2 linked regions of the Homo sapiens genome follow. The protein of the gene in region 1 purifies or fractionates together with the protein of each later gene. This does not show direct contact. Each region holds a gene or a part of one and is shown on either strand. Other genes may lie near its edges.

Region 1 (3,500 bases):
GTCTTAAGTTTAGAAAAGAAAAAGAATTTGTACGAAATTAGAAACATTACAGACCAACTTATTAGTTCTAGCACACCTTAATTACTATTCAAAGAACAGTCTTTCGGCATGGCGTGGTGGCTCACACCTGTAATCCCAGCACTTTGGGAGGCTGAGGCGGGCGAATCAGTTGAGGTCAGGAGTTTGAGACCGGCCTGGCCAACATGGCGAAACCTTGTCTGTACTAAAGATGGAAAAATTAGCCGGGCGTGGTGGCGGGCACCTGTAATCCCAGCTACCGGGAGGCTGAAGTGGGAGAATTGCTTGGACCTGGAAGGCGGAGGTTGCAGTGAACGGAGATCACGCCATTGCACTCCAGCCTGGGCAACAGAGCAAGACTCTACCTCAAAAAAGAAAAAAGAAAAAAAAAAAAGAACAGTCTTTTCAATACCCAAATCACTTCATTAAAAATAAAGACAGCAAGATAATCACATGGATAGCCCAGGAGCCCCAACTACTTTATTGAGCTCACTGTAGGAATGAGATTAGGAAGCTATAAAATTAAGACCCAGGATAGGCATGGTGGCTCACATCTGTACAAAAATTAGCCAGGCGTTTTGGTGGTCCTGGCTACTTGGTGGCTGAGGATCGTTTGAGCCCAGGATTTTGAGGCTGCGGTGGGCTATGATCACGACACTGCACTCTAGCCTGGGTGAAGGAGGGAGACCCCATCTCTAAAAAAGGAAAGAAAAAAATCTTGGAGCCATTAGGATTTAACCAGAATTATAGGAAAAAATTTGTAAGACATTATTTCTGATGGAAACATGAAAAGTAAAAATAATATGCAACACTATCCTTTTTTAAAATTTGAAATATGTTGGTTGGGTGCAGTGGCTCACACCTTTAATCCCATCACTTTGGGAGGCTGAGGCAGGCAGATCATCTGAGGTCAGGAGTTTGAGACCAGCCTGGCCAATATGGTGAAACCGTCTGTACTAAAAATACAAAAATTAGCTGGGTGTAGCAGCGCTAGTCCCAGCTACCTGGGAGGCTGAGGTGGGAGAATCACTTGAAACTGGGAGGCAGAGGTTCCAATGACCTGAGATCATGCCACTGCACTCCAGCCTGGGTGACAAAGTGAGACCCTGTCTCAAAAAAAAAAAAAAAAAAAAAAAAAAAAATTGAAATATGTTGTTCAGTGCTTGTAACATTGTAATTATTACATATTATTTATATGCTTTATTTTTTCAACAGATCAGCTGGATACTCTTGTTACCAGAATTCCAAAGGTTCTGGTGAGTAGTGCATATAAAGCAGATAATACTTATAAGTAACATGGTTCTGAGAAGCCTATTTGTCTGTAACTACTTACACAATAGAGTTTTTTTCTTTTTTCTTTTTTTTTTGAGATGGAGTCTCACTCTGTTGCCTGGGCTGGAGTGCAGTAGTGCGATCTGGGCTCACTGCAACCTCTGCCTCCTGGGTTCAAGCGATTCTCCTGCCTCAGCCTCCTGAGTAGCTGGGACTACAGATGCGTGCCACCATGCCTGGCTAATTTTTCTATTTTTAGTAGAGACAGGGTTTCGCCATGTTGGCCAGGCTGGTCTGGAGCTCCTGACCTCAGGTGATCCACCTGCCTCCGCCTCCCAAAGTGCTGGGATTACAGGCATGAGCCACCACACCCAGCCCACAATAGAGTTAAAAATAGATTGTATTAGCATCCTTGGTGAACTTAGTCTTTAAGATTTCAAAGAGCAATCAGGGAGGTTTTTCTTGTCTGTTGGTACAGTATATTTTACATCAAGCATTTTTAAAATTAGCAGTGAATCCTAAAAGAACTGTATTTATAGCTGACGTTGGTTGAAAAGCACAGAGCACAGCCTGGGGTTTATACATGGATAGAAGAAAAAAATTCTAAATTGAATAGCTTCAAAGAATACAAAATATTTCTCAGTGCTGATGTTTTCCTCTCACTTGAAATAAAGAATAGAGCTTTCAAAGTATTCACCTCTTCTCTGCTGGAGTTAAGAGAGTAGGTAAAACAATCCCCCAAAGGTCTCTCACTAATTGCTTTTTTTCCCTTGGGAGAGGAGCTGGAATTAACTGACTGTAGGAGTGTGTGTGTATGTATATATATTTTAAGTATAGTAGTTATAATAGGTTTTAAATGTTTCATTTAAATTCAGTGATACATAAACCTGGGTTCACTTTGCTTTTCCTTGGTAAATATATAGTCATTACAGTTACCTGGGAAAAAAATATACAGACATATATGTGTGCATATATACATATATAAATAAATAATATGGTCATTTAAAAAATGTGTTGCAGTCTGGGTTCATTAATTTAGATTCCTCACCAAAATTCTTACTGAATTATAGTTCAGTGTAAAAAAGAAAGGAAACACAAAACAATATAATTATTAGTAATATATTCCAGATGTGGAGGGAAATAAAGAAATATTAACAATTATCAGTATATTAGATTGACTTAGTTATATAAAAGAAAAATTTCTAAACAAATATATGCCTAGTAAAAACTCTGAAAGGCAATATGTCAAAGTGTTTTAAAATAATTACTACTAGGCCGGGCACGGTGGCTCACACCTGTAATCCCAGTACTTTGGGAGGCCGAGGTAGGTGGATCACCTGAGGTCAGGAGTTCAAGACCAGCCTGACCAACATGGTGAAACCCCGTCTCTGCTAAATATACAAAAAAATTAGCCAGGTGTGGTGGTGCACGTCCGTAGTCCCAGCTACTCGGAAGGCTGAGGCAGGAGAATCACTTCAACTCAGGAGGCGGAGGTTGCAGTGAGCTAAGATCATGCCACTGCACTTGAGCCTGGGCGACAGAGCGAGACTCTGTCTCAAAAAAAAAAAAAAAAAAAAAAAAAAAATGCTGGGCGCCGTGGCTCACGCCTGTAATCCCAGCACTTTGGGAGGCTGAGGCGGGCAGATCACCTGAGGTCAGAAATTCGAGACTAGCCTGACCAACATAGAGAAACCCCGTCTCTACTAAAATAAAAAATCAGCTGGGTGTGGTGGTGCATCCCTATAATCCCAGCTACTCCAGGCAGGAGAATCGCTTGAACCTGGGAGGCAGAGGTTGCGGTGAGCCGAGATCGCGCCATTGAACTCCAGCCTGGGCAACAAGAGTGAAACTCCATCTCAAAAAAAAAAATTAATTAAAAAAAATTACTACTAGATTGTGGAATTAAAAGTTTTTATTTTCTTTTTATACACTTAGTTTACTTCACTAATCTGCAGTGAACAATGTGTATTGCTGTTTATAATTGGAGGGGAAAAGGGCCAGTATTCAGCAAGTGCTTGATTGTCTTCCTCTATAGTTGAACTTAAGGATTCATTCTATTATTTAAAATAAACACGATAGCCAACTACTGGCAGTGACTCTAGATATTACTGTTATTATTATTTTTGAGACGGAGTCTCACTCTGTCGCCCAGGCTGGAGTGCAGTGGTGTAATCTTGGCTTATTGCAACCTCGGTCTCCCAGGTTCAAGC
Region 2 (3,500 bases), on another chromosome or scaffold:
GCTAGGATTACAGGCATGAGCCACCACGCCTGGTGACCCTGTCTTTTAAAAAAGAAAAAAAAAAAATTGTTTCATTTACACTTTATACACATAGGCTGAAAGTAATTTGATACAATATTTTTAATAATTTTGTGCCTGAAACAACGTTTTGACCGCATTTTGACTGTGTGTCAGGTGTGGAATTTTCTACTTGTGGTGTCAGCGTTTCAAAAGTTTCAGATTTTGGAGGATTTCAGATTTTTGCATTAGGGATGCTTGACCTGTAGTAGAAAAGCTTTGCCTGGTGTGACAGGAAGACTCAGAGGCATTTAAGAGGAAAGAGAATATTTATTTGTAAAAAATCCAAGGCAGCCAGAAGATGACTTGACAAAAAAATCAAACTAAACAAAACCACAATAAGCATTTAAAAGAACAAAATGCTGCAAAGATACCAAAGTTACCAAGTTCAAATTGGTATGTTTGTGGTGGAAAACAATGACTCTCTAACATGTTTATTATATTCACAAAGGTTGTGTTGTATTTTCAGATCTCAGCATATGAAAAATCAGGGATAAAATGGTTTTAGTTGAGAAGTCCAACTTTAAGGGTAAATTTCAAAGTGTTATTCTTTGAGGACCAGGACCATATAGAATGATCTTACTAACTTTTGGTTTATCTTAAGTTGCAGTGTTTCCCTCCTCATGACTGTGGTATGTGAAGTGCTTAGTCATATTAGAAGCCCTGCTGAGGCAGGGAGAGAAAATGGTCATCACAATAGAGACACTGGCATGGGACAACATGGGACCATGAGAGCTGGCCTGGGGTACTGGCTGCTTTTCCTCATGATTTGTGGCATTTTAGTAAACCTGTCCACCTGCCTATTGTGCCATTCATAGGTGAGAAAGAGAATTGGTATTTCTAGACCAAGAGCTGGTATGGCTAGCCAATTTCAAGTTTCCCTATCCAGTGATCTTTCCACTTAATGGTTCCATTGTCATACTTTTTAGGAACTCGTGGATCAGCTCTACTCATTTCGAGACTGCTATTTCGAGACACATAGTGTTGAGGATGCTGGGAGGAAGCAACAGGATGTGCAGAAGGAGATGGAGAAAACCCTACAGCAGATGGAAGAAGTAGTGGGTATGAGCCCTAGAGATTGTACAACCCCCATCCTTCAGTGAAATGTGATTGACCTTTGCTCCCTCCTCATTGACTCTTTGGTATCCTATCTGTTACTGCTATAGGGTAGTACAACGTAATACTACTTCTCAGGGCCCCTGTGCAACCTTTCATTCCCTAAGCCACTTTTCCTAAAATTTGATTATAGCAAATGGCATGAAATGAAAGAGCATACTTACTTGAACTATTGCAGTAATCTGACTTTCTGCCTCTAATTTCTTTTACTTTCAAATCCACTTATATAATACCATGGCCATGGCTATCTTTCTAAATCATTACTTCATGCATTTAACCTTATCCTCTCATCTGCCTTTTTGCTCAGGTATCTTTAAAGATTCCTGCTATTGACTAGCTGAAGTCTAACCCCCTTAACCTGGTATTTAAGTGTCCATTGTTTTACTCTGTTTTCTAACCTTATCTCTGACTAATTACTTGTAGAGGAACTTTCTGTTTCATCCAGGTTGAACTGTCTATTCTCCCATGAACATGGCCACATGTACTTCTGATTCTGTGTCTTTGTTTATATCATTTTCTAACCTGGAGGGTCTTTTCTTCTCTCTCTCTGTTTTGTTTTAACGATAACTATTTGTCCTGACTCATCTTCTCTTCACTTGTTAAAGCCCATTCATTGGGCTAATGCCATATGCTCTTTTTCATGGTTTTAATTTTCCATGTTTACGCTTTGTCTTCTCCACTAGATTGTAAACCCCTCTAGGAAAGTTAGCAACCGAGCTGATCCTTGTAGATAGGGGCCCAAGAAACAGATGGCAGAAGCTCTAGAAATAGTGCTTTCTTTGTTGCCTAATTAGCTAACATACACTCTGCCTATGGTGAGCTTTCAATAAATGGTTTATTGATAAATATTTTCCCCAACTCTTTTTATTCCTAAAACTGACGTGTAGTTATTTTTTGAGAGAAAGTGCCCTGGTCTTTAACTTGTTTTTTTCCCACTTTATCTTTTTTTCTTCCTCTTAGGTTCTGTCCAGGGCAAGGCACAAGTTCTAATGCTAACTGGGAAAGCACTAAATGTGACTCCTGACTATAGCCCTAAGGCTGAGGAGCTTCTGTCAAAGGCTGTGAAGCTGGAGCCCGAGCTGGTGGAAGCCTGGAACCAGCTGGGTGAGGTGTACTGGAAAAAAGGGGATGTTGCAGCTGCCCACACCTGCTTCTCAGGAGCCCTCACCCATGTGAGCTGCCCCCTATCCCTTTGGAAAGCAGAGATGGGAAGGATGAATTTCTTTGGTTCTATGAGTTTCCCTAGGACATGAATACCAGAGTAGAACTGAAATTGAACTAGGACAGAATCAGGAGGGAGGAAAGGTCAGAGAGCAGACCTGAATGAGGAAAATAGAGGCAGGGGCCTGGGAAAGGAAGATGATGATGGGATCAGGTTCAGGGGGAGAAAGGAAGTGAAGAAAAGCTAGCAGCTAAGCTGATCCCTGTGGATGGGGGTTGAAGATACAGATGGCAGCAAGAATTTAGATGAAAAAATTAGGGCTGGGTGTGGTAGCTTACACCTGTAATCCTAGCACTTTGAGAGGCCGAGGCAGGAGGATCACTTGAGCTCAGGAGTTTGAGACCAGCCTAGGCAACATGGTGAGACCTTGTCTCTACAAAAAAAAAAAAAAAAAAAAAAAATATATATATATACATGGACCAGACGTGGTGACTCATGCCTGTAATCCCAGCACTTTGGGAGGCCAAAGTGGGGAGATCATTTGAGGTCAGGAGTTCGAGACCAGCCTGGCCAACATGGTGAAACCCTGCCTCTACCAAAAAATACAAAAATTAGATGGGCATGGTTGTATGTGCCTGTAATCCCAGTTACTCAGGAGGCCAAGGCACAAGAATCACTTGAACCCAGGAGGTGGAGGTTGCTGTGAGCTGAGATCGTGCCTCTGCACTCCATCAGAGTGAGACCCTGTCACAAAAAGAAAAATACGGCCAGGCGTGGTGGCTCACACCTGTAATCCCGCGCTTTGGGAGGCTGAGGCAGGCAGATCACTTGAGGTCAGGAGTTCAAGACCAGCCTGGCCAACATGGTGAAACTCAGTCTCTACTAAAAATATAAAAATTAGCCGGGCATGGTGGTGCATACCTGTAGTCCCAGCTACTTGGGAAGCTGAGGCAGGAGAAAGACTTAACTCGGGAGGCAAAGGTTGCAGTGAGCCGAGATCACGCCATTGCACTTCAGCCTGGGTGACAGAGCAAGACTCCACCTCAAACAAAACAAAACAAAAAACTTAGAAAGGTAAAAAATTAGATTTAGAAGACTGAGTTCAGAATAGATCTGGAAAGGGGAGGTAGAATCAGGAAGATTGAGTATGTGCCCTTCCTATTTG

Evidence for each region. Proteins that work in one complex are often made in the same cells at the same time.
Region 2: the proteins of FAM216A (region 1) and TTC5 purify together in Homo sapiens (affinity purification with mass spectrometry; one large-scale study listed by BioGRID and IntAct). This does not show direct contact.

The regions. Positions count from the first base shown.
Region 1 is NC_000012.12:110,471,845-110,475,344, forward strand, and holds part of FAM216A (protein FAM216A), read left to right. Parts: intron 1-1,233; coding exon 1,234-1,274; intron 1,275-3,500.
Region 2 is NC_000014.9:20,299,452-20,302,951, reverse strand, and holds part of TTC5 (tetratricopeptide repeat protein 5), read left to right. Parts: intron 1-986; coding exon 987-1,119; intron 1,120-2,133; coding exon 2,134-2,345; intron 2,346-3,500. UniProt on the Homo sapiens protein: Cofactor involved in the regulation of various cellular mechanisms such as actin regulation, autophagy, chromatin regulation and DNA repair.